Homo sapiens: one gene and its partners. The protein of the gene in region 4 interacts with the protein of the main gene of each other region in a pairwise test. Each region holds a gene or a part of one and is shown on either strand. Other genes may lie near its edges. The genes, in order: STARD13, TRPC4, EPB41L1 and ITPR1.

Region 1 (7,028 bases), on a different chromosome or scaffold from region 4:
GTCTTGAAATTCAACCAACATGTTTCAATTATTTGCTCCTAAGAACAACAGAAGTTTCAACATTCTGCCAACAGAGTAACTCCTGGAAGATTGGCACAGAAGAAGGCACAAGGTAAATACCCATCTCTGTACACCCCGTGCTACCATGTCATGTGCTGCTCCAGGCAACTCCAATGGATTGGCCACCCTGGCCAGTGATAACACATAAAAATTCCACTCAGTATTGGGACCAATAGATAATGAACACAGTCAGTGGAATTCCTTCGCAGGCTTCTTCAAGATATTCTGCAAGACTGATTTCCCTTCTTCTTGCCAAGATTTTTTCCTCCTTCTTCTAGGAAGTCAGTGATAAAAATATTTAAGCAGCTTTGTCTGCCTTAGACCTTCCAACTAAAAGTACAGCAAGTGGAATGGAATGCTAATATGAGGATCCAAATTTTCAGGGAAGGAGGTCAGTAGACTTTCCTATCTGAAAGAGACCAATGGTGAAAATGAAGGTGGTTTGATGATTAAGAACCTGTTAAACATAACGCATGGGTTTACAGAAGTCCAGACAGTAAGGGCCTTGCGATGGATTTCACACTCTATTTTGAGAAATGCATGTAGTGGGAAATGTGTTGTGTCCCTCAAAGCATCTGGAGAAGATTCTTTAATTTTCTCAAATAAGAACTCCGTCTATTTGAGTGAGAATCGTTGGAATATCATTAACGCAGGATTTGTGAATCGTTCTTATTTCTTATAATAATTTTACATATTATACATAATTTCAGGGTGGTATAACTCTCAGAGGAAAATGTGATTTTATGACTATACATACTTTTTGTATCCAGTGTGTCGTTTGGTGAATATAAATGTATATGAAATGCTACTGTTCACTCATAGAGATTGAATACTAATCAAAGGTTCCTGCTGTCCATATGTATGATTTTCAGAAGTAAGCAGGAAGGGGAGAGTTGGAATGCAGGAAGAGAATGCCTACTTCAGCTCGAAATCCTGACATGTAAATTAGGTACTTGGTGACTGCCAAGTTCCTTTCCAATCTCTCTGCATTGTTTCGCCCTTGTGTTTTATCCAACTGTTAGGAGGCAAAGCAACACAAATCATTTGTATTTTAGTAAGCTCTGCCTCTGTCAGACCTTTAAAATTCTCAGGATTCCTATGCTGTGTGAGGAAAATCATTTGACAGTCTAGCCAGACACTGTAGATCTATTTCTATTGATTTTCTTTTGCTAACAGCATTAGCATTTTCTGTAATTTTGAAGTTATTTTCCAAGTTCTCCATTTAGATTATTTTAGATCCTAAGCTTCTGAAAAAAAAAAAAGAGAGAGAATTCATGTCTTTTCAAACAGTAGTATATAAATTTTCATGGTACTTGGTCCTTCCCTAGACTGCACCAGTCCAGAATGACCACCATGGTCTTGAGTGACTTCACAGTGTGGCGGCTTGGGCTAGGCAGTATGGTAATTCCCTATGCATTCTGTTGGAGTTTTTGGATGTTGTGTGATTTCTCTCCAGAAGCGTCATTCATAATGTGAATGCTAATGTGTATCTCTTTGCCAGCAGGAGGAAAAACATCTGAAGAATATATTTGTAGACTTCCTGGAAATTGATAAGTTGTCTCCATAACTAAAGCAAGCAGATTTTACTAATTAGAATTATCTACATAATTTTACTTCATTCACTTCTTTCTGTCATACTAGGAGAGCCTTTATATAACCAAAGATATTTTTGGACCATGAATTCAGAAATTCTCGGAGCCACCCATCAGTGCCTGAGCTTCAGTGAGTCCATATCCCATGTCACCCACGGCAAAGGAGACTCTAAGACTTCTGAAGAGTTTCTTGCTTCTTTCCTGTGGGGCAGTGACTCCACTTCCCAGCAGTAATGGAATATCCTGAATTAGCTACATTAATGTTAGAACCATTTGGACCTCACCCAGGACTTCAACTACATTATGGTAAGACAAAGCCAGAGCTAGAAGGCAATAATTTCTTCCTTCTGGCTCAACAGTACCTATCTTGTAGAGTTATTTGAGGAATGGTTGTATTCTTGATGTTATAATTATTAACTCTACCCATATACCGACTCAGCTTTCTGTTCTGCCTACCCAAGATAGAATCTTTGTGTGGTTGTTAATTTTCATAAAAAGATGGTCATCTGGCCTTTACTCAGTTGACTTTTAAAGTATTTGTGGCTGGCCTTTTTGGAAAACATAGAATACTTGCAATGTTCCTCTCCAAAACACAACTTCAAAGTATCTACTGCCAAATCTATGCAAGAAGTATATTCAGAGAGAATTATCTAAGGGAAGCGTAGGCCACATACTCTCCTAGATCAGCATTTCCAAAATGTGTTCCCCAGGGAAAGCTGGTTTTGCAATATGTGACTTCCCAGTATCCTGTGAAAAGTGGTTTCAAGATGAAATATACCAGTTTAAACACAGTTAAACTACTTTGTGCAAGATTTTCCTGAGCCTTTCATAAGTCTGAATTTCCAAGGGAAAGGGAATGTAGCATTTCCAAAAATGACTTAACCACAGAAATGTTTTCTCCCTTGAATATCTGTCTAATGGGCCTAGTGTTCTGTGAAGCAGACTTATAGAAATTGCCTGTGGATAATCTCCATGCTATTTCTAGGTTAAGACAGAGAATCTGAAGACTGCATACCTGACCTCTCGTTTTTACCTACCCACCCACCCACACCCAAATATTTCTACTGGACTATAATTTATTGTGACGCCCCCATTTCCACTGCAGGATGTTATAAGAAATGAGACTCACTACTGAATTCACAGCAGGCATGGTTGAAGGCACCATTCACTATAGCTTGCAGTGTTCCCTTTATGAGATTTGTATGAGAAATTCCTCTCATAGGTCAAGTTCTTGGGAGAAAATTCTCCCAAAGAGCAAGTCCCAGGAAAATCTTGGCTGGTAAGTTCTTACCTTAAGAACAGGGAAAATCTTCCCTTGGTTGTGTTTTCCTCTTTGCTTAGATCAGGGAAGCTCAAGCCAAATTTGCAGCCCATTTTTGATTATTATTCAAGGCCTTACATTTTATATTTCCATGTGATATATCTTCCTAGTTTTACCTCATTAATTGGCCAACATTTCTCTTTTCATCAGATTTATCTTTTTTGCAATCTTTAGTTATATATTCTTCTATAAATGACCTCAAATCCTCTAGGTAATGAGGTGGAATGTAAATTAATATATAGTATCTTTCCCCATACCAAAATCATATTTCAATTGCTCCAAGGGAGACGGCAAATATTTTTTATGTGGTCTTTAGATCATTCAAATATCTGGTGTGCAATGCATGTTCAGGTTCTCCTATCTTCTTAAGTCTTCTTGATTGCCTCACTACCCTGTTGTCATAGCTAATGAAACACAGAGAAAGTGTGTACTCTTGTTAATGACATGTCTCCACTAAATCTCCATCTATTTATGTCCCTTTATATAAGAGTTTTGCCAAAACCCACTTATCATTTGTTCTCTTTTTAAATCTGTTTTAGGTCATCAATTGATACTATTAAGACCACTAGCAGTGACTGTTTTTTCTAACTTGTGTTTCTGTGTTCATGATTAATTTGCTAATGAAATGAGGAATTTTGCATTGTAAGAGTTGACCATTGTCCAAAATTTGCTAAGAATTAAAGCACTGATGATTGGGGAAGGTGGGAGAGGGAAAGACATTTTAAAAAATGAATTTTTATTTACTTAAGCTAAAGTTACAGAACCCAAATTTGGCAACTGTCTGCATCTGAACAACAGAAGTTTCAACATTCTGCCAACAGAGTAACTCCTGGACGATTGGCACAGAAGAAGGCACAAGGCAAATACCCATCTCTGTACACCCTGTGCTACTGTGTCATGTGCTGCTCCAGGCAACTCCAATGGATTGGCCACCCTGGCCAATGTGTGAGTTATAAAGCAATGATGTGTAGCTATTGAACCTACAATTTGGTTAAAGTTAAACTCTCAAGTTTTATATGTTTACAAGCATATTGTCCTTTTGTTAATTTCCTCCCAGTACTCATTTCTTGACTTCTTTTAGTTTTACTATGTAGTAATTTTTAAAATGTTAGTCAAAGTTAGTTAATTTAATTCACTTAGCAGATTTTCCTGTAATTTTGGTTAAACAGTATCCTTTCTGTACAGGCCCTCCAAACACCAGCACTGAGTAGAAAGAGGCTCTGATTCATGAAATGTGAATTTATGACAGTTGCCACTCTTAAAAAAAAAAACAAACAGACAGAACTTGAGCAATACATGACTGATGCATTCTCAGCCTGCTTCCTGTGTTCCATCTGTCTTTCTGCCAGTGCATTCACCCTCCAGGTTTGAAAGTAGTCGGGCAAGAAAGTACTAAACATAGAGAAAGGGCAATTCCAAAAGAACAAATGATTGCTTAATTTAGGCTGACATTACCCAGTTGCTGGGGGTATGGGCCATGGGGATGGGCCATGTTCACCACTTAGGTTGGGCAAATTCCCAAGATGCCTTTTGACATAGTAATGAGGGGGAATACATCACTCATGCCCACTGGCATTCTCTGGGGAAATTTTTAAAAGGCAGTATATCCCACTCCAGTTGAGTTCAAATCAGGTGCCATATCTACTTAAAAATAGCCTCAGATAGAATGGCAACTCAAATGACAGTTTAACTTTCACTACTTTCTCGGTAGTGAAACTTTCTACATTCCACATTTTCTATCAAGAAAAGAAAGAGGTTGTATTGTGAGGTAAGAGGCACACACACGGACTTCCTTCAGTAGCTGCAATCCTTGCTATAGGTCAGGCATCAAGACAATTCCACTTTACAGGCCTGGATTTTGGAGAAAGAAAGGTGTTTACAAGTTTCTGTATAATTATAGTTATACTGACATTTAAATAGTTCAACAGACTGGACTTCCTAACATTCCTATTACATCGATATTAATGAAAGCATGACACAGGTTTCAAGGAAGCATGTCCAGGTATATGCTGAATGACATAATAAGAAAAATGTAAATATGCATTGCTTTTGTCTTAAGGTAATACTTGTGATTGCAGAATCCTAGAATGTAGAGATGATGGGGACTTCAGAGATTCTTTAATCCAAACCCTTTATTTAATGGAAGAAGGGAAAAAGGTCTAGAGAAGCTGTGACTTCTCTCAGATCACACAATAAATTAGTTGCTGAGGTAGAACAAAAACCTAACTTCCACTTTACCATTTCCTTGAGAAACTGTAGAACAATTGTAAGCCACTGATATATTCCACATAATAAAGCCGCTCTGTTGCCTTTTTAGGTTCTAGTATGTTACGTTTATGTTCCCCTGCTTTCTACAATCCTGTTCAAAGAGTTGCTGACTTAACCACAGAGAGGATTCCAGAACCTGAGACACAGAATAAACTTGAGCAATCATAGTCCATCCACTTCATTGTCTCATCAAAAACCAAAGGTCCAGTGAAGCTCTGGAACTCAACGCTGTAAAGGAGCGAAGGAGCTTCTATACAGAGCCTGGATGCCTGTCTCCTTATCCTACTTCAGTGGACTTGACTGCAATCCGGATTATGCTGTTTTCTAAGCATTTAAAATAAAATAAAAAGTATAATAGTGTGATAAGTTCTTTCACAAAGCAAGCAATCACATTTATGTTTCTACTTACATTTGGGTTTTCCAAATATGTGTGTGTGTGTGTGTGTGTGTGTGTGTGTGTGTATGTAGACTTTAAACATGGTGCATCCATCATGTTGCACTAAATCAAAACCACCAAATAATGATGTAGAACTAATAAATCAAAACCATCAAATAATGACATAGAAATCCAATTCTCCCACCTTACACCCATTAAGATGGCTACTAATAAAAAAACAGAAAGTGAAATGTAGTATAGATATACAATGGAATATTATCCAGCCTTAAAAAGGAAGGCAATCCTGCCATGTGCTATAACATGGATGAACCTCAAAGACATTGTACAAAGTGAAATAAGCCAGTCACACAAAGTGAATCACTGTATGATTTCACTTATATGAGGTACTTAAAGTAGTCAAATTCATAGAGACAGAAAGTTGAATGGTGGTTGCCAAAGGCCGAGAGGAGGAGGAATGAGGAATTCTTGTTTAATGGGTATGGAGTTTCAGTTTTGCAAGATGAAAAGAGTTCTGGAGATGGATGGCGGTGATGGTTGGATATTATGAATTATGAATGTATTAAGTACCACTGAACCATACATTTAAAAATGGTTAAGATGGCAAAATTAATGTATTGTGTATTTTACCACAATAAAAAAAATTAGAAAAAAATCCAATTCTCCCTTTCCTTGGCCTAACATGGTCTTCCACCACCCCCAGCATCCTCTCTCCTATCCACTCCCAAGCGCCAGTCAGTGAGGCAAATAAGGACCATTCTTATTTCCATTCTCTCTCTCTACAACAATTTCCCTATTGATTCAAGCAAGAATGTGGGGTAGGGATTATGGGCAGTATGACTTATGATAAACTTTCACTCTGCAAAACAACACCCTCTTTTAAACATCTCCTCTCTTTTGAAATGGAATTGCAACCCCAGAACTAAAAAACAGGCTAGAGAAATGATGCATGTATGTTTTGATGTGTACCCTAAGATGAGCAAGTTTAGATTCATCCTGGGTTTGGATAATGAATTCTGATTCTATGCATCATCAAAGATTCCTTTATTTCTCCTCCTTGTTTTTCCTCCCCATGAGTGTATCTGCTATTGAATCATGTGCACGCCATTCAATGATTATCTCACTATAATGAGGTCAGTGGGGAGCAACTTACTTGTTTCCACTGTTCCCAACAACCATGAGAAATTATAAGTAATGATGTCTTAAATCAAATTAACATAATTCTAAATCTTAAAGCTCTAAAGTAGAATAATGCAAACAATTTTAGTGATGTGGCTGTCACTTTAAGATACTAACCTGTAAACTACAGAAAATAATGCTGTCATTAATTTTATTTGCACATGATTAATGGAATGATTAAAAGCTGTTAGTGACAGGGCACAATGGCTCACAT
Region 2 (7,028 bases), on a different chromosome or scaffold from region 4:
GAGCTTTAAAGAGCTGTAATTGTGGAACATTTTGAATCAATTTAGTTTACCATGCCATGGATAGTGTCTGATTGACATGAATCTCTTCACATTTTCTCCATTCCCCCAAGACTGGATAAACAGAAGGTTAGGAGGTCATGAGCAGCGGGCTGTTCAAATGTTGATTTTTCTCCTTTAACAATCCCATTAATGTGTAGGACGAAACCCAAATTAGTTCCAAAATTTAAGCTAATGTTGCAAAGCTGCTGAAATACCTTCATGAAAGGGAAAGGCAAATTAAATATATTGAAAAGCTATAGAGAGTTTGAATTGTAATGTTTTTAGACAAATAATCTATTTCCTTGCTTTTTATTTTTATTTGACATCTAGGCTACTCTACCTTTTAATTACTTACTTCACAATATTGTCAATCATGTAACAAAAACTACGGAAGGTCTTTGCTGTAAAAAATAGTTAAGAAATGTATTAAGCTTCCAATTCACATTTAGTAATCTTACAAATATTAGGCAAGAGGAATGACTACATGGAAGTAATTTTAACTGCCACAGACTCTGCATCTGCAAAAATCATGCCAGAAACCAAGGGACAAGTTTTTTGTCTAAGACATGTCCTCAGTCGTCCTCGCCTTTATGTTACACACAGGGCAAGAATCAGTTTTAAGGGTATGACTACATGCTTTTTGTTTCCAGTTTCCTTTGTTATTATTCATTTAGATGATTGGCATCGGGATGGGAGTGCTTGGTCAAGGGAGCAACCTTAAACCTTAAACCTGTCCCATCGCAGAATGGTACTTGAAAGATTATTGTTTGACACAGAAACGTAAAAGTGGAGTAAGAAAGAAAGGGAAAGTAGGCTTCACACTCTTTGGAGAAATCAAGTGCTTCATCACAACGTGAAAGCAAAGAAAACTTCATGTCAAAATGCAAGGCTTTCATTACGGGCGAGCTGAGTCATGAAATAAATTCATGTGCTCAACAAAACTAGGCTAGCAGCGTCAGTTTTCTCAGGTTTACCCAGTGTTCAGCAGGATGATGTCTGGGTGGAGGCAATATGGTGTGATGGTTAGAGCCAAGTTTTTGTAGTTAAGATCTGGATTTGCAATCTGGCCCCAATATTTAACAGAGTAACACTGCACATTATATAACCCTCTGTGACTCCGATTTTTTCATGAAAAAAAAAAAACAGCAACAAATAGTTCATACTTCAGAAGTGTATTTGGAGGTTTAATATAATAAACCATGTAAACAACTTAACCCAGTTGCTAAAATACATTCATTTGAATTGATAGAAGATGTTTGTTCTGCTAATATATGATCAGTACAATTGCAGCATCATTAGCCTAGAATTAATAGAAGTAATACAATTCTTCTTTCTATGATGCTGCTGCTTAGAAAGAATATATAAAATGAAAATGTAAAAATATCTATGGCATGAAATTAACACAGAGCTTTCTCTTTGGATGAGATTAGAGAAGTACCAGAACAAGTCTGCAATCAAATCCTGCCAACATTAATTGTTTTAATATGTTGATTCATAAGGAATCTGTTATTAGGAGATTAACCCAAATAGTGCAATTTATTCAGGCAAAGAAACATGCAGGGAACCATCCAGATCTAAGAGCATCTGTGACTTCATTCAGGTGCATTCATTACTGAGCACCTTCTGTATGTCAGGGGCTACAGTATGACTGGTGAGTAAGATGGATGTGTTCCTGACACTGCCTAGAGGAGGAGATGGAAAAGTAATAACACAATGCAATATAGGGTGTGTATAATGAGGACATTTATCCAAGAGAGTCTATGGAGGGGTTTGCTTCATAGAATGCTCCTGCGGTGAGACAAGACGTGAGATGACCTTTAAAGAGTGTGCAGGACTTAGCTATGTGAATGAAGGTTAATGAGAAAGCATTCCAAATCCTGAGAGATGGACTAAAGATAAATCTCAGACTTATTTAGACCAAACCAAGGAAAACTTTTGGTAAGAAAGATATGAAGCAAGACATGCTAAAGCAGAATTTTCTTTAAGGCACATGATCTTACTAGAAAACCTTTAATATTTGAATTTAATAATTTCTGAATAACCTAAGAATACATGCGGTAAAACACAACTTATGATTTTAAAAGGTATATATGAAAGTAAAATGTTATTCCTGAATTTTTTAAATAATGCTATCAGTTATCCAATGTTATTTTGCTTTGGGAAAATCTTCAATCAGAGAAAAATATTCTCTTTGATAGTAAATGCAAGATACTCCAGAACAACTCTGTAAGAATTTCGTTTTCATTTTTTTCTCCATTGAAATCTCAAAACATTTTGAAAGGAAAAAAATCCCAATACAATGTCTTTTAAAATTGTATCTTTTGGGGAGGATTGCTTGAACCCAGGAGTTTGAGATCAGCCTGGGCAACATAGCAAGACCCCATATCTACAAGAAAAGTGTCTTTTAAAAAATAGCACCAATTCTTATTTTTTTGTTACATGCTATATGTTTTTTGTTATGTTTTATCTTGTATTATTAGGCTTTATCACCCTTCCATAACTTCATATTAGCAAGAATACAAACATCTTGAGAGAAGTGTTGGAAATTATTAAATGCCTTCCATTGCTTTGCTTCTTAGATACTGAAGATGGGATTAGAGTTATGGCTTTTTCATAGGTTTTGACATTGAAACCACTTTTTATATTTATAACATATACAGAAGAACATAAGCAAAGAAAACACGTTCAGTAAGGAAGAACATTTTTAGTGGTTCAGGAACAAAATGGAGAATATATATTCAATGTTTCATTGTCTCTCCTAATAGGCTATAAGCTCTATGAGAGCAGAGACCTGACACCTGGGAATCCCAAGTGCCCCGTGCATTTCCTGGAATGTGTTCTATGAAATATATGTTGAAACAGTTATTAAGGAAATTAATGCATGACCAAAGTGTATTAATTACTTTGCAGGTAAAAATATAAATATAAATATGCAAGAAATTCAAATTACAATTTCTATCTCGAACAACTCTTTGACAGGAATTTGGCAGCTTCAGTTAATGCAATATCATTGACAGCATTCTGTTATGAGGATATGGTAAAGGAGTTTATGAGTACTTTGTTCCCAGGCTTTCACAAAAGTTATTGTGGCCAAAGATGACGTTAAATCAGCTTCAATGCCATGACCAAAATGAGTGCAGGCAAAAAATAAATCTGAGTTCATTCACTGGCTGCAGAGAGACCTAAAGAGCAACAGGTGAGCAGAGCAGGCTGCTTCTGCATTCTCTGTTTCATTTCATGAATTGTACATCTTGGGAACTTTACTCCATTCAACATTTGTAGGATAATATTAACAGTGAACAGCTATGGCATAAGAGAAAATCTTTGCAATCATCGTGTCGATTCTTTAAACCCCCTTCTCCAAAGAAAAACTAAAGAAAGCAAAGCATACTACTGTGCTAATATGGATCTTTAAGAAGATTTAGGCCATATCAATATTTCAATATCTTTCAAGTCTAAAGCCTGCAATGACTTCTTATCTTCCCATTTACCACTTTGAACATCTTTCATCAATGTATCTTATCATTGTGTAGTAAAATTACTCTAGTTTCTTTAAAATATTAGATCTCTGAGTCCAAAACATAAAAACCTAAGAAAATGAGTTAATACTGCTGACAAGGACTCAAAATAGCAAATGTGATTTTAGAGTTAGAGGGAATGGACACAAAAGAAGCTGTTCACTTCAGTATTAAGGGAAAAGTTCATTTCACCTTGTTTCAGGCTTCCATGACAACCAGATTAGCTTAACTAATCACACAACTAGAGGAAAAAATTGAGAAAGCAAGTTCAGGTATCTTGAACCTTGAGTATTTAGTGAGTAGCAACAGACAAAGCAGCCAGGGCTTATATGGGATCATTAAGGCCAAATTCAAAAGAAACTGAGTACATTTTACAATTCAGAAGTCTTTCACTTTTTCTCTTTCTCTTTTCATCTTACATAGCATTTCCAAGTATTGTTCTGGAATAGATAATTACTATCATTTAAGAGTGAACAGAGAACCAATATTTTCTTCAGATAGATGTAAACAGTCTTTTGAGAACTCACTCAAACACAAAGCAATTATGCTGGCTGATTAAGGGTAAGAAGTATGAGATTCTGTTATTTAATACAGCATTTTTAATATATGGAAATTTTACAAGAAATTTATTACTCCCTTGCGATGAACTTACTTGGTTTCTTATTCCTGACAAATCAAAAAAATGAGCAAGATATGAGAAAAGTTTTAGTACTTACATCTGCTATTGTACTAAAGTCTTTTATTTTATTAACACTTTATAATAAGTATTTACTGATATAAATAAAACAATACCATATAATTTACTAAGAGTCTTCACACATCCACATATTTTACACTTCCTAAAAACCTGTGAGGAAAATGTTGTCTATATATACAGTTGTCCCCAAGCATCTGTGGGGGATTGGTTCCAGGACCTCATGTGGATACCAAAATCCATGGCTGCTCTAGCCCTGCAGCAGTTGGCCCTACGGGACCCATGGATAGGAAAAAATCAGCCTTCCATATCTGAATGTTCCACATCCTATGAATGCTGCATTTTCCATCCACATTTGGTTGAATCCAAGGATGCGGAACCTGCAGATACAGAAGGCTGATTATTTATATATATATATGCGTATATATATATATATATATATATATATATATATATATACACACACACACACACTTATATATACGTATATATGTATATATATACGTATATATGTATATATACGTATATATATATATATATAATTTCAAATATTAAATCCATTCAGCAGGTGAGAATACTGAAGCTTAAGGAAATCTATCTGTGACCCCCTAAAGTTACAAGACTTATAAATAGCAGAGCCAGAAATCTCAGTCTGGACATACTAAAATTCATTAGTTTTTCCATTATACCACAGTCAATGTGTACATTTTAAGACAGAGGCCAAAAACATCAATTATTAAACCATTTATTACCACTCTTCAATGTGATTCATAATTATTAATCCGGTAGACAATAAATGTCATCCACTTACAGCTGAATAGAAAATGCTCTAAAACCCAAAACTAATTTTGTGAGTAGCAGTTTGCTTCACTGTGATTAAACTCTATGGCATTTTGATGGATCAAGTCTGGCAACACTCACCTCTTTTTGACGGTACTTAATGGCCAATTTTAGTCTTGCAAGATCATTTCCACTTTGTTCTTCTATGAGACTATTGTCATCTCGGTAATTAAGAATGATTTCCAGTTCTCTGGAACTTCTCGTCTGATCCAGTAGGTCCTTAGCAAATTGTTTGCACTGCCGTGACAGCTCTTCATACTCCGACTTGAATTCATTTTCCACCTTGCTCAGTTCCTGAAGTTCCCAACTTAACTGAAAGGCTGTGAGAAAAGGATCTTCGCTTGACAGTGCAATGAGAGAGGGACTGGCCAAGGCCTTGTAGATGTTGAGTCTGGAGCGTGAGTGACGGAGGCTGTCCACATCTGAACTGGACACGCATTCCACACAGTTACAGCGGACCTCGTGGGGTCGAGGCACTGAGACTCCTTTCTGAACCAAGAGTTTTATTATCTCATAATTATTTGTATGGGCTGCCAAAATGATTGGTGTAATGTCTGGAGTGAATTCAGAGAACTGCTTATCAAGGAGTATAGGAGGCACCTAAAAAAAAAAAAGGCAGAGGTGATGAATATTTATTCTTTTGTTCAAGTCTGTGAATTTCATACACCATGCTATAGCAATATGGAACAGGGTTTATATGTCCTTGGCCGGGTTTTTTTTTTTTTGTAGGAGAGATATGGTCTTTTCCCCTACAAAAAGACCAGACAAAATTGGAAAAAAAAACTTTCCAATATGATGCATTATTCTTTTTTTAATCTGAATTATGACATTTTACAGCATCTTAAAATAGGTGGTTATGGAAACTCTTTACTTGATGAATGTCTTTATTTCTTTTAAATAAGCCCAACTTATTTTCCAGCTGACACTATTTTCTTTGCTTTCTCAGAGATGTTGAGGTCCAAAATAATCAAGAAATACACTCAAAAACAGCTAATGATTTGTTTTAAACCCAAGCTCTTTCTCTGCAGTAGAAGTCCTTTAATTCCTCAATTAGGTTTTGTCTTTTGTTTGTTTTTACTGTGTTTTAGCTTCTGCTTTCCTATCATTCAGCCTAGTGACTAAATGTGGCAGCAAAAATAAGTGGGCTGGCCTCATGCTTCCTCTTTTCATCTGTGCTTTTCTGGTATATTTTCCAGATGACAAGAGGTGCTCCATAACTAGCATTACTGTTTTATTAGAAATAAGCAAGCATTGAGTCGAGTCAGCAGTGTGAATTCCACTGAATCAGGTCACCAATGTGTTTATGCACGATTTCCTTTGGGTTATACTCTAGGGATGGTAATGATGAAAATAATAATAGCCGCCATTTAGTAAGCATCTGCCAGGTACATTAACCCTCACCCTTTATTATTCACATTTTATGGATGTAGTTCCTCAGTGAGTAAGTGGAAGGTCTACAATCTGATCTGCAATTTCCACATACTTTAAAGACCTTATATAATAAACACAGGTTCACCTGTCTGACACCCAACCCTGAGTGAATTGCACTGCACTATGTTGCTTTAGCACTTTTAGTTTATTTATTTTTGCTGGCACAAAGCCATAGAGGCATTTATGAAAAGTTAATGCTACATAAGGGCAGTTAAACAGGCATGGCAAAAAAAAATGATGACTCACGTCACATTGAAATATGCTGCTGGAAAAATGAAGGAAACCACAAAAGGATCAGAGGAAAACCATATGGAGAAAAACGACACTCATGATGACACTTCATTAATGCTACTTTTAAATATAGGTACATTTTTATATGTGGACAATTACACACATTTTAAAGTCATCTGGCCATATAGGATATCCATTGGTTTCATGAGAAACACTAAAGATAATAGGAATGAAATTATCGATTTAAAATATCCTTTACAGAGGTATGCAATTAT
Region 3 (7,028 bases), on a different chromosome or scaffold from region 4:
CGCAGGACAGACGTTTGCTGAAGGCTGGGAAGATGCCCAGTGGGGAGTGGAAGGAGAGTTTCCCCACCTGACAGCCAGCGCAGCCCGAGAGGAAGGGACCCCCGTGAGTGGAGATTTGCTGGGAAAGGCTGAGGAAAGTCCCACAGAGGAACTGAAGAAGCACCCTCCTCACAGAGGACAGGGCGTGCATCCCGACCCCCAGGCCTGCGCCCTTCCTCGGGCCATCCCTCTGAATGTCAGGAAGCCAGTCAAACCAGACAGAGGCAACTTCCCACCCAAAGAGAGGGGAGTGGTTCCCACCCAGAAAGGAGGGGCTGAGCTGAAGGACCGCGAGGCTTCAGCATTTCTTCACATGGAGGTGATCATTCCCCTGCCAGCCTCCCCTGGTCATTCTGAGGACCTGGCAGCTCTGGAGGAAGCTTCTCCAAGCCCAACCTCCCATGGGTCAGGGGAGCCTTCGGAGCTCAGGGAGCCCTTTCTTAGACATGTCCATCTTTCGAAAGCCAGCCCAGAGCCCAAGGACCAAGTAGGGTTTGTGGTGTCCCCTGCCACAGGAGGTGAGCGCAGGCCTCCTCCCATCACCAGCAGAAAGCCCAGAGTAGTCCCTGAAGAAGCTGAGGGGCGCATACCTCTGGGGTTTGGGTTCCCTTCAGGGAAGCGAAGGGAGATGACCTCTTTCCAGGCTGGGGACCAAGAGGGCTCCCTAGAAGATATTAGCAAGACCTCAGTGGCCAACAAAATTCGGATATTTGAGACCCACGGAGCTGAAACTCGCCGAATGAGTGAGGGTGAAGCAAGGTCCCTTCCAAATGACGTATCTTCAGAGGCACCCGTGGGACAAGCAGAGCAGCAGCGGAGTACGCTCTCAGACCTGGGCTTCGCCCAACTCCAGCCCCCAGGGGACTTTGCCAGCCCCAAAGCCACACATTCCACAGTGATACCTCTGGCTACCAGACACTTCAGGGAGGACACTTCTGCATCCTACCAGGAAGCACACACGGAACTAGAGCCCGTGTCCCCCAATTCAGGCTGTGAAACCACGCTGGCAGAAGCTACTGGAACTGGGGTAACTGGCCGCGTGAGCCCCCGCCCCCACCGCTGCTCCCCGCCCATGGGGGCTGGCCGCATGCTCTGTAGTTTTTAGAAGCATGTTTCAGTGGCCCCTCGTCATTTCTGCAATCAGAGGCTGCTTATCCATCCCTGTGAGTTTTTTCCCTAAACGGGCCTGGGTGTAGCTCAGGCTGAATGATGGGCTTCTCTGCTTGGCCCATGTTAGCTTGGCCACAAAGACCCTCAGCTTTTGGTGTGACCTGGTGCCCAGAGGGTCACACAACCCCCATGGAGAAGGTGGCGCCACCACCAGCAAATGACACACCTGCTTTGCCTTGCCGCTCATACCCGCTGGGTTCCTGCCTACCTTGCTTGGCTTGTCCAGCGATCTTTCTTCATCCTTTCCCATCCCTGGTTCTCCCGCCTTGGGAAAGTTGACAGTCCAGAGGTTTCCATCCTTCACTTCTGGTTCCCTCTCAGTCCCAGTGCCAAGTTTCTTTCTGCCTCCTTAAGACTAACTGTCTTCTCTAATCCAGAACAAATCCGGAGATGCGGTCAGGGAAGAGAAGCGCTCCACCAACTTAGCAGCCAACACCCCTGGGAAGGGGGGGCGCCTGAGATTTGCCAGCCCCTCGGGCCCTCAGGTCTCTGCAGCCCCTCTGTGCCCTGATGACCCAGTCACCTTCACCCGGCCAGGATGCATCGCCGCCTTAGGTTCCCACCTGCTGTGGCAGCACCTCTCGTGCTGCTCAACTCTGGCTTGTCTGGAATGTCTCCCTCACACCTCTCAACCTTCCAGAAACTGGCTAAATGGAGGCTCGCTTAGCAAGTGAATGTCTAAGCCCACTGAATCCCTAGAACCAGAAGCCAAGTTCTTTACAAATCTTTCATGGGTATTAGGTTGGTCTTTAAAAAGAATGTTATGAACCAGCCAAAAATGTGTGTGTGGTGTTTAATCCCTGACAGGCCAGTTGAGAGGTATGTATGTCGGACAAGAGTTGCTGGTTCCCCGAGGCACTGCCTTGGCCCGCTGTTGTCAATTACACTGATGGGACCAGAGCCTCTACTCCCTGACTTGCCTGTGGTCCACTCATGGAGCCCAGGGTGGAGCTGGCGTAGCACTCAGCTCCCAAGAAGCTCGTGCCCAAAAGGCCTGACCCTGAATTGCTCTTCTCTCTAGTCGATGCTGACCCCTCCCCCGGAGACTCAGTGGAATTGACAAACATGTTGGCTTCCTCTTTTGTTCCTCAAAGTTCTTGGCTCCAACCTCTCTGCCTTCCCTTCCTGGGTCTCCCTGAATCCCTGGATCTCCCTCCTTAGTTTCTGTTTCTCAACGCCCACCTGCACGGATGGGCCTGGGGTCCGGGCTTCCATCCCTGCCTTTCGTGCAATGCTGCTTCCAATAAGCTCCCAGATCCAATACCCTTGGATGGAGCCTCCTGTCCAGGAGTCACTGGCAGGACGTTTGCTTTGTACTTGCTTTTGCCATCAGTGTGAGACCCTCAGAAAGGGGCATCTCCACTCTTGAGTCGTTTTTGTTTTTTTTATGCTTGTTATGATTTCAAGGAACCTTTCCTGGGGTGTTTTTCATTTCCTGGCCTGCTCTTCCATTCAGGATGTCGACACAGCCCCGAGATTTCTCCTGACATTCACCATCTTGATTTCTCTTTCTCTCTCTCTCCCCACCCCACATCCCCATTCTTTTGATTTTATCTGGCCATAGAGAGCAGGGCTGAGGGAGGGCTCCGAGGAGAAAGTCAAACCACCACGTCCCCGGGCCCCAGAGAGTGACACAGGCGATGAGGACCAGGACCAGGAGAGGGACACGGTGTTCCTGAAGGACAACCACCTGGCCATTGAGCGCAAGTGCTCCAGCATCACGGTCAGCTCTACGTCTAGCCTGGAGGCTGAGGTGGACTTCACGGTCATTGGTGACTACCATGGCAGCGCCTTCGAAGACTTCTCCCGCAGCCTGCCTGAGCTCGACCGGGACAAAAGCGACTCGGACACTGAGGGCCTGCTGTTCTCCCGGGATCTCAACAAGGGGGCCCCCAGCCAGGATGATGAGTCTGGGGGCATTGAGGACAGCCCGGATCGAGGGGCCTGCTCCACCCCGGATATGCCCCAGTTTGAGGTACAGTGGAGCTTCCTCAAGAGCCAGGCCCGCTGGGCACCGCATGCTCAGAGGGCCCTGGGCCACCCGTGAGAAGACCGAGCACCCAGCCTGCAGCCTGAAGCTCTGTCTCGTGTTGCATGACTGCCCCTCCGCAGAACAGCATGGTTCTGTGCTCGCATGTTTGCCATCTCGGTTTACCCCTAACACGCGCTCCTTGGTATTTTAACCCTGTGACCCCATCGCTTGCTGAAGTCGAGCGATGACAGGTAGTCTGGTCTTTCTTGACCCCATGCCCCCCCACCTGTGTTGCATGGCACCTGCAGAGAGCATGCGTCTGTGGACTCTTGGGGGCTCCTGCAGCCTGGTCTGAAAGCTGAATGGTTTTTCCTGATCCGGGCCCAGGCTTGTCTCTCTGGGGTCTGGGCTTCCCGGGGAAGGGGAAGCAGTTTAAATCCATCTGGCCCTGGGGTCTCAGGGTGGTAATGGAAGCTCCTGGAAGAGAGGAAATGTGGTCATTGAGGAGGGACAGACTGTCTCTGGGCCTCTCTGTGGTCTCCTCTGTAGAGCTGTGAAGGGATTTCTCTAAGGCACGCCTGCCCATATCATTCCTTTGCCCCCTCATCTCTTCTAGACCCAACCTCCCTCCTACACTCTCCTTTCCCCAACATTCCTGGCATTGAAATATGAGCTTAGCCACTCTGGGCTCTCACTTCATGCTATATTCTCTGAGCAGGTTTTTTTTTCTCCCTTTCGGTGCCTTACAAACCTATCATGTTCCAGGACCAAGTTCAAATGTCAGTTTCCTAGCAGGGGTTTGCTTTCCTGACCACCCTGGGCAGAAATATCGCCCCCCTACCCCCTTGCCCTGTAATGCCTATGCTCCAGCACTATCCAAAGCGGTCAGGTCAGTGGCTGACAAGCCTGCTCTCCCACCAGGTGGCAGCTCCTCTAGGCCTGGCATATACTAGGCACTAATAGATGATTAACTGGATGAATGGCTGGGTTACAGGGTTGCAACCATCTATAAGAATCCCCTTCAGCCAGGCACAGTGGCTTGTGCCTGTAATCCCAGCTACTCAGGAGCTGAGGCAAGAAGGCAGGGGGATCACTTGAGCCCAGGAGTTCGAGGCTACAGTGAGCTTTGATCGTGCCACTGCACTCCAGCCCGGGCGACAGAGTGAGACCTTGTCTCTTAAAAACAAAACAAAACAAGAAAAAAAAAATCTCCAGGCACAGTGGTTCACACCTGTAATCCCAGCACTTTGGGAGGCTGAGGCAGGTGGATCACCTGAGGTCAGGAGTTCAAGACCACCCTGACCAACATGGTGAAACCTTGTCTCTACTAAAAATACAAAAATTAGCTGGGCGTGGTGGCACCCACCTGTAATCCCAACTACTCGGGAGGCAGGAGAATCACTTGAACTCAGGAGGCAGAGGTTGCAGTGAGCTGAGATCACGCCATTACACTCCAGCCTGGGCAACGGAACGAGATTCCATCTCAAAAAACAAAACAAAAACAAAAACAAAACTATACTCAGAGGTCATAGTCACAGCTTGCCATACCCAAATGGACCCCACATGCTCTCTACTTCACCCCAGTCCTCAACAAACCCTCTTCACTCATTGACATCTCCTGCCTGGATGCTGTAGGCCTCCAAGCATGTGTGGCTCTTGCTCTAAAGAAGAGTCCAGGCTGGGCACGGTGGCCCACACCTGTAATCCCAGCACTTTGGGAGGCTGAGGCAGGTGGATCACTTGAGGTCAGGGGTTCAAGAACAGCCTGGCCAACATGGTGAAACCCCGTCTCTACTAAAAATACAAAAGTTAGCCGGGTGTGGTGGCATGAGCCTGTAGTGCCAGCTACCTGGGAGGCTGAGGTAGGGGAATCGCTTGAACCTGGAAGGCAGAGGTTACAGTGAGCCGAGATCGCACCATCGCACTCCAGCCTGGGCGACAAAGGGAGAGTCTGTCTCAAGAAAAAAAATAGAAGAGTTCAGCTGAAGCGGCTGAGAGGTGGTGAGCTCACCAGGATTTGGTGACATTATGTACACAAGGAAAACACTTAGCCCAGGGCCTGTCATAGAGTATGTTAATGAAATGGTAGATGTTCTAATAGTAGCCTAAAAAACAGCATATAGCCACCATGAGGGTGTGTGGCACAGGGGCGCAGGGCAGGCCTGCCTGGTCCTGGTGGTGGTCCTGGCTCTCCTCGCGGGCTATCTGTCTATGATATCACACCACAACTCTTTTACCCTGTCCAGAGTACCCTTCCAGAGATGTGGCCAGCTGTGGGGATAGGAGATAGCCTGCAGACACCACACTGCAATTGTCTGTGAGCAAGGGTCATGCTAGGGTTTCAGTTACAGAGCATTCTCCCTCCTTTTCCTACAGCCCGTGAAAACAGAAACCATGACTGTCAGCAGTCTGGCCATTAGAAAGAAGATTGAGCCGGAGGCCGTACTGCAGACCAGAGTCTCCGCTATGGATAACACCCAGGTAACTTGTGCCTTCCAATGTACCCTAAGCATGGGTATTGGGCATTTGGTGGTAGGGTCCCCACTGCTGTGGCCAAACCCCTTGGCCAGCTCTTTTAATCTCAGCTTCCCTGGAACCCATATGTTAATCCTGATGCTCTCCTGTGCCTCAGTGTCCTCTCTGAGCTCTGGGGAGGGGCAACGGGTAAAGCAGGTTCCTGTCCTGGGCAGACCATACTTCTTAAAGCCTCCATTTAGCCATCCATAAAATGGGAATGACCCTGTCTACCCCTTCCTCCTGGGCATATTGGGAGGACTGTACTGACTAGTGGATTGGGACCTTGGTGTTCACATTGCTTGGAGGAGTTGGAGAGGTTTCTTGAGGTATCTCAGGGGCTGCTTGAGGAGAGAAGAGGGAGAGATCCCAATTCAGCTTCAGTCAGAATAGCTCACCTTGGGTCATTTTTTATGCATTAGAGTTCCACATCAGATCAGTAAAATGAACAAAGTGAAAGAAGAAAACCGAAGATCATGTGTCTTGACAAGAAGCAGCATCCTGACCACCTGGAGAAAGCCGTCAGGCATAGGCACAGGCCCACGACTTCCAGTCCATTCCCTGCACTCCTTCCATGCTTTTTAAACTTAGGAAGTTAAGATTGAGGATCTGATAGATGCCCTCCTGGTTTTTCCTGGCCAGAAGAGCTACAATGCTAGGAGCTTTTTTGCTCTGAGACTAACCTTTTCCTGAAGAACTGAAATAAGACCAGGCACAGTGGCTCACATCTGTAATCCCAGCACTTTGTGAGGCCAAGGCAGGCAGATCGCTTGAGCCCAGGGGTACAAGACCAGCCTGGGCAATATAGGGAGACCCCAGCTCTACAAAAAATACAAAAATTAGCTGGGCATGGTAGCACATGCCTGTAGTCCCAGCTGCTCGGGAGGCTGATGTAGGAGGATCACTAAAACCCAGGAGGTCGAAGCTGCAGTGAACTATGAGCTATGATTCCACCACTGCATTCCAGCTTGGGTGACAGGGAAAAAAAGAGAGAGAAAGAGAAAACTGAAATAAGACATAAACCAATACAACATGGGCAATTCTTTTGTTTCCAGATTTCTTTCTCCCACTTTTATAATGATGGTAGGAGTTTATGAGGCCGTCTACTACAGGTCAGGACTCTTGAGTTCTGATGAGCTGTGTGACCTTGGGCAAGCTGCTTCCCCCACTGACCTGTTTTGTTTTAGTAACACGTGTTTCTGTTGTGTTTTCATACAGAAAAGTATAAAGAAACTAAAATTGGCCCTAGATCCCACAGCCCAGTAACCCTTATTGACATAAAAACAAAACAACAAAAAAAGTTTATAGTTATACAATTCAAGCAGAACAAAAT
Region 4 (7,028 bases):
GTTTATAGACAGAGACAGAAGATGTGTGTGTTTGTATACACATATATCTACACATTCATCCATGTATCTTTCTATAACTACACAAATATATAATAAAAAGCATGTACTTACACTAATACTTCCAATTCCATTCCAACACCATAGGATTTATTCTAGCCTTCACCTTTTCCATTTCATGACTCCCTCCAGCTGCCACGATTCCCTGTATGTTTACCCATCTGCCCGTTTCCCTGTGTGTACCTGTCTCACCTCTGCCACCCACCTCCACGGTCCCCAGTGTCTCCTTGGCTCCAGCTGTAAGACCTGCCAGTCCTGCCACCTGAAGGGAAGGGAAGGGGAAGAAAGAAAGGAAGTGAACCAATTAATACTTTTAAAAGAAAAGGAAAGGGAAGATAAAGCAAGGCTTTTATTATTTTTTAATAAAATAAATAAAACTGCAGATAAAATGCCTTTTCTTGCCTCCTGTATTCTGTTCTTTCATTCATGTGTGATGTACGCATCCTATCCACATTCTCTGTGTGCTGCATTTGTATGCATCTGTAAATCATATGTAGTATTTTATCTCTACTTAAAATTTTATATAAATGGGACTGTACTCCAAATACCATTCTAAAACTTGCCTTATTTATTCAATACGGGTACTGAAGCCATATTGAATATATCTGCGTTAATAGAGATTAATCCATTTCTGTAATTTGGACTGTTGGATGATATTCTGTTTTATTGATTTATCACATTTTCATCGCTGTTTGATATTTGATCACATGCTGCAGTTCTTCATGTCAGGAAACATCTTCATTCAAATTTTTCTGAGTATATGTATGAATTTCCATTCCACACTGGGAGGTGGGCTTGGAGGATATTCATATTTTAAGCTTTACTAAGCAATTCTAAATTGGATGTGTCAGTGTACACACCCACCAGTTGTAGACGACAAGCTTTGTTTCTTCATGTCTTTGTTAACCTTGAATATCATGATGCTTTTTAATTTTTGGTAATTTTATAAGTGTGAAATAGACTCATGTCTACACTTGCATTTCCCCGACATCTAATGAGGCTGAGAATGTCTTCAAATCATGATTATTAGAAATACATAGAGTTTTTAATTCAGAAGGCAGTATTTTGAAAGCCTGTGGCTTTCTCGTTATTTCACATTTCAAGTATGTTTACTCTTTCAGTGTTTGATGAATCTTCTCCCAAGTGAATGAGAAAGAGTGCCTTAATTGGTCAGGTTCCAGTTAACAACATTCACTTGCAATTGGATGAAGATGAAAAGTGAGGAGTCTCCTACTTTTGTAAATGAAATGTTTTTTTACACGTGTAGGAATTAGAGTGACTTACATGATATAAGATCTTTAAAATGTTATAAAATTTCTAATTAGGCTGAATATGTGTGATATCTTGAACATTTCCTACATGGTCTTTACTGTATAAAACACAGCTGAAGGGAAAGAAATAGACAACCATCTTAGGCCTTAGCATTCCCCCCGTTTATTTTAAAAAGTAAACATTAAGGACCTAGTGGAATTAGGTCGTCACATAATTGCTCCAACACAGCTGGATAGACATGTGTTCCTGTTGGCTGTCAACCCACACTCTACTGCACAGCTTGAATAGTTCTTTTATCTGCTTGGTACCAAAGCCAAAATCCTGGTATACAAGAGCAATTTAGGGGTGTTGATGTATGAGTTTAGTTGGCCAAATGTCACTCCCATGACAGTCAGGGCTGCCCAGACGACCCTTCATTCATCCTGAATGATTTCTGGAGCGTGAGCTGTGTGCCCTTGTTCCTTCCTCTAGATATCAGCTGAACCTCTTTGCGAGGATGTGTCTGGACCGCCAATACCTGGCCATCAACGAAATCTCAGGCCAGCTGGATGTCGATCTCATTCTCCGCTGCATGTCTGACGAGAACCTGCCCTATGACCTCAGGGCGTCCTTCTGCCGCCTCATGCTTCACATGCATGTGGACCGAGATCCCCAGGAACAAGTCACCCCCGTGAAATATGCCCGCCTCTGGTCGGAGATTCCCTCGGAGATCGCCATTGACGAGTGAGCCTGGCACCTGAAAACCTCACTTTACATTATTCTGTGCGGCAGTAGATAGCCCCATATGGTCTCATTAAATCTTAGAAGAAAGATGAAGTGTTGGTTTTTTCTTCAAGCTTAAAATAAAATTAAGTGGATGGCAAATATTTTTTTCCTCAAGAATGTGAAAGATGGCATGATTATGTTTTTGGTTTTTGTTTGTTTGTTTGTTTGTTTGAGATGGAGTCTCACTCTGTTGCCCAGGCTGAACTGCAGTGGCGCAATCTCGGCTCACTACAAGCTCTGCCTCCCGGGTTCGTGCCATTCTCCTTCCTCAGCCTCCCAAGTAGCTGGGACTACAGACGCCCACCACCACGCCCGGCTAATTTTTTGTATTTTTAGTAGGGACGGGGTTTCACCGTGTTAGCTAGGACGGTCTCGATCTCCTGACCTTGTGAGCCGTCCACCTCGGCCTCCCAAAGTGCTGGGATTACAGGCGTGAGCCACCGCGCCTGGCCCCGATTGTATTTTTTATATCTCATTTATCTCCTCTTTCATTCTGCAAATATTTAAGTGTGTACTATGTGCCAAGCTCAAGAAATATATCAGTGAACAAACTAGAAAGCAATCTCTATGCTAGTTGGTGGAAGACAGACAATAGGCAAGATAAACGACTCAAATATATAGTTGGTGATATATGCTAAGGAGGGAAAAAATAAAGTAGGGTCAAGGGATGCCAAGGGTTAGGGGATGTTGACTTTTGAAGCTGAGTGACCCAGGAAGACCTCTCTGGGAATAACTTGAAATTTTGTTTCCTTTCTTTCTCCTTTCTTTTCAGCTATGATAGTAGTGGAGCTTCCAAAGATGAAATTAAGGAGAGATTTGCTCAGACCATGGAGTTTGTGGAGGAGTATTTAAGAGATGTGGTTTGTCAGAGGTTCCCTTTCTCTGATAAAGAGAAGAATAAGCTTACGTTTGAGGTAACTCATGATGAAATCTTCTATGTGTATTATCTGCCTCTCAGTGGTCATTTTTCTATGGGGCAAATAGAAAATATGTGAGTAGGTTGTGATTTTGGTCATGATGCTCTGGTTTTGTAATGGAAAGGAATTCAGCTTGGTTTTGTTCCAGAATAAAATAAAACGGATACCAGTCACATGGCTTAATAGTAGTTATGGGCTTAAAAGAAATATACAAGGTGACTTGAACCACATAAAATGATAGAACATCACTTTGTGTTAAAACTGACAAGAGAGAAACACTGTGCTTGCAATCTGCCATAGCTTAATCATTTGCAGAACATAAATCCTTGTTACTTCTGAGTTAACAACGTTTCTGAGACTGCTTTTGCCTTTTAAGAGCTGTATTGCTGAGGATCGCAGAGTGTTATTATCTGTGTCCTTATTGGGAATAACTCTGCTTGCCTGGTGTTAATATTATCCTTGGGAAGCTGTGTAGAGCAAATGATGAGGTCTTTTTTTTTTTTTGATTAGTCATCAGAGCAGATCAGTAGCTTTCCATTTCTTATTTTTCCTCCTTATGAAACAAAATGAAAATTTATCAGAAAGTGCAAGGAAAATACATGCCTTCTCTTACCATAAGGAAGGTCCAAGTCTGTCATTTCTAAACTGGTCAACATCAAATGGAATTGAAGGGGATGCAGTTTATGTAATACCGTCTTCTTCTTTTATTTTAATACAATAGGTTGTAAATTTAGCTAGGAATCTCATATACTTTGGTTTCTACAACTTCTCTGACCTTCTACGATTAACTAAGATCCTTCTGGCCATATTGGACTGTGTACATGTGACAACAATCTTCCCCATTAGCAAGATGGCGAAAGGAGAAGAGAATAAAGGTAACAATGATGTGGAGAAGCTGAAGAGTGAGTATCTGAGGGTGCCCATACATCTGAGAGATGCCCTCCAGCCTTTCCTGTTATGCTCATGTCATACCCTATATGTGATGCCACATCCTTTCTTTGTTCATTCCTTCCCAACTTTTCATCGTGAACATTTTCAAATACTGTGTAAAGAAAAGCGGAAAGAACAGTACGATGGAGTCCCACGTACCCATGACTTTGAGTCAACAGTTATTCACGTTTTGCTGAATTTTATTTTGTATTTATGTGTATTTATGTGTATTTTATTTTGTATTTATGTGTTTATGTATGAGTCGTGTGTATATTTTGTTGAACAATTTGAAAGTTACTTAACACTTTGAATGTTTATATAACAAATACATGTCCTATCATTGTTCTTGACATTCGTGAGACCCTTGATAATAATATTTGTTTAGGATGTAAGAAAATCCAGGCTTCTATCTTGGTGGCTATTTCCACTTTGTGAGAAGGACAATCTGCCTTTGCATGTTTATTTCTTCCTCGTTTTAGGGTCAGAGTAGGCAGATATTGGTATCATGTATCAATTATTGTTAACTGGTCTTCTGCAGCTAGAACAGAAAGAAATACATTGACTTATCTCTATTTGCTAGGTCTTGTGCTGAGTCATGTTGCATTATACCATTTAGTTCTTTTGTTGAGCTCCTTTATTTCCATTTTGTAGATGAGGAGACTGAGGCTTAGAGGTAGTATGGTGCACCTAAGGTCAAGCAGCATCAGGATTTGTACCTTGTTAACTTTATGTACCTAGTTCTGTGCTCATAACAAGCACATAGTTGATGATCAATAAAATTTGGGCAGGGCATAGTGATTCATACCTGTAATACTAACATTTTGGGAGGCTGTAGCAGGAGGATTGCTTGAGGCCAGGAGTTCGAGACCAGGCTGGGCAATATAGAGAGAACCTATCTCTACCAAAAAAAAAAAAAAAATTAGCTGGGTGTGGTGATGCATGCCTATAGTCCTAGCTACTTGAGACGTTGAGGCAGGAAGATTGTTTGAGCCCAGAAGTTTGAGGCCACAGGGAACCATCATTGTGTCACTGCACTCCAGCCTAGGTGATAGAGGAAGATCCTGTCTCTAAAGAAAATTAAAAAAAATAAAATTTGATGGGCAAGTTAGTGCACAGAAATGCCCCTCTGGGGATTTTGAAGCCCGTGATCTTTCTGTTGCTCTCAGAAGCCCAGATTTTTGATGTGCATTTACCTTTCCAGGTTTCCAGGGTCCTGAGATTATGTTGGAATAGGGATATGTTAAATAATTTCTCTCAAAGAGCCCCTGCCCCTTGACATATGCCTCTGAGCATTCTCTAGAGACATTGTGACCGTGGTCTCTCCTGGCCTTTCCTAGGCAGTAACGTGATGAGATCTATTCATGGCGTGGGAGAGCTGATGACCCAGGTGGTGCTCCGGGGAGGAGGCTTTTTGCCCATGACTCCCATGGCTGCTGCCCCTGAAGGCAATGTGAAGCAGGCAGAGCCTGAGAAGGAGGACATCATGGTCATGGACACCAAGCTGAAGATCATTGAGATACTCCAGGTATCCACTAGCTGGAGCTGGGGTAGGGAGGGTATGTCACAGAGGCGCCATTCAGATCCAGTCCCTCTGTTCTGATGGAGCCCAAGGCTTTCTGGGAAGAAAATGGGGGCAAATCCTTAGCTCATCCCTCCGTGTCATTTATGAGCTGGCTCCTCTTAATCCCTTTACTGCTTTCTCCTACCCTCCCAACATGGCCATGTCCCTCCAGCCATGTCAAGACTTGCCATTGTTATCTTAGCTTTCCATGATCATTGGCCTCCATGCCAACCCTCTGCCTAGAATTCACTTACCTCTGTGTCTCCATGTAGCTGCATCTCTGCTTATTGATCATAACTAGGTTCAGGGTTCCATCAACTTTGCAAAGCCTTCCTCCCTTCTTCCCTTTTTCATTCAATCAACAAATATTTATTGAGACCAACTCTGTGCCAAGTCCCCTTAAGCACTGGGAGGGTCCAGCAATGAAAAAAATAGATGAAATTCCTGCTTCTCTAGAATTTACATTTTGATAGAGGGGCATGGGCATGTATTAAGAATAAGTGCTAAGAGACGTTAAAAAGTAAAGGAGGGTCAGGATTGTTTGGAGACACTGAGGACAGGGGGCTGGGGTTATTGTGTTTGGTGAGGTTATCAGAGAAGGCCTCTCCAGTACAGTGACATGATTACACACCTGAATGAAGTGAGGAGATAGCCACACAGATATCTTGGGAAAGGGTATCTGAGGCAGAGGGAGCAGCAAACACAAAGACCCCATGGTGAAGAGGGCACATTTGGGAACAGGTGGGGTTCAAGAGGGAATGGGAGAAGATCAAGTCGGGGAGTAAATATATATAGCTTCTTGGACAGATTGCCTGTAAGGATGCACAGAGAAGTGGGGACATGGGCAGAGAGCGATTGTTGGTAACATGGTTTATTTTTGTTGTAATATTTTTTAAGTGGGTGGGTTATAACAAGCTTGTATGGTGAATAGGAATGATCATGTATACAGGGAGAGTTTGTTGCTGTTTGGGGAGAGAATAATTGTAAGAGCAAAGTCCTTCTGTAGGCAAGCGGGGGTGGAATCTAGTATATAGGGAAGGCTTGGTCGTAGGCATGAAACCCTCCCAAGCCTCTCTACAGCTTTGAACCCCACCCGACAACCTGCGCTTCCCTCTTTCTGTGCCGTGTAGGTAACTTTTATTCATCAACAAAATCATCTGCTCCTTAATGGAAAGAATTATGTGTTAGCACCTTCTTTTTTTTTATCCCATGTTGCCTGATCTCAACCCCAACAGATGTAGTAGAAATTCATAAATGTTTAAGATCTGGGGGTTTTATTTTTTAGTCTGAAATCACCCTTTACCAATGCTTTGAAAGTTTTAATGGGTTGTCTCAAAGTCATGTAATTAGGACGATAAAGACAGCTTAAGTAAAGGAGAAATCTTACTGAATTTATGCCTGAGCAACAGTAGAGAAAGATTCCTTTTTTAAAACTTTATTTTTTAATAAATTTTATTTTTACTTTTATTTTCAATTTTTTTTGTCGAGACAAAATATACATATAAAATTTGCAGGCCATGGTCCAT

The links.
Region 1: the proteins of ITPR1 (region 4) and STARD13 interact in a two-hybrid assay, tested with the Homo sapiens proteins (one study listed by BioGRID and IntAct).
Region 2: the proteins of ITPR1 (region 4) and TRPC4 interact in a two-hybrid assay, tested with the Homo sapiens proteins (one study listed by BioGRID).
Region 3: the proteins of ITPR1 (region 4) and EPB41L1 interact in a two-hybrid assay, tested with the Homo sapiens proteins (one study listed by BioGRID).

Annotation. Positions count from the first base shown.
Region 1 is NC_000013.11:33,275,739-33,282,766, forward strand, and holds part of STARD13 (stAR-related lipid transfer protein 13), read right to left. Parts: intron 5,597-7,028; exon of another isoform or gene 5,291-5,596; intron 3,919-5,290; exon of another isoform or gene 3,723-3,918; intron 1,959-3,722; exon of another isoform or gene 1,816-1,958; intron 1-1,815. UniProt on the Homo sapiens protein: GTPase-activating protein for RhoA, and perhaps for Cdc42. May be involved in regulation of cytoskeletal reorganization, cell proliferation and cell motility. Acts a tumor suppressor in hepatocellular carcinoma cells.
Region 2 is NC_000013.11:37,740,765-37,747,792, forward strand, and holds part of TRPC4 (short transient receptor potential channel 4), read right to left. Parts: intron 5,692-7,028; coding exon 5,173-5,691; intron 1-5,172. UniProt on the Homo sapiens protein: Forms a receptor-activated non-selective calcium permeant cation channel. Acts as a cell-cell contact-dependent endothelial calcium entry channel.
Region 3 is NC_000020.11:36,206,715-36,213,742, forward strand, and holds part of EPB41L1 (band 4.1-like protein 1), read left to right. Parts: coding exon of another isoform or gene 1-1,066; intron 1,067-1,586; coding exon of another isoform or gene 1,587-1,694; intron 1,695-2,773; coding exon 2,774-3,184; intron 3,185-5,557; coding exon 5,558-5,662; intron 5,663-6,622; exon of another isoform or gene 6,623-6,662; intron 6,663-7,028. UniProt on the Homo sapiens protein: May function to confer stability and plasticity to neuronal membrane via multiple interactions, including the spectrin-actin-based cytoskeleton, integral membrane channels and membrane-associated guanylate kinases.
Region 4 is NC_000003.12:4,671,336-4,678,363, forward strand, and holds part of ITPR1 (inositol 1,4,5-trisphosphate-gated calcium channel ITPR1), read left to right. Parts: intron 1-1,800; coding exon 1,801-2,052; intron 2,053-2,866; coding exon 2,867-3,008; intron 3,009-3,732; coding exon 3,733-3,913; intron 3,914-5,278; coding exon 5,279-5,466; intron 5,467-7,028. UniProt on the Homo sapiens protein: Inositol 1,4,5-trisphosphate-gated calcium channel that, upon inositol 1,4,5-trisphosphate binding, mediates calcium release from the endoplasmic reticulum (ER).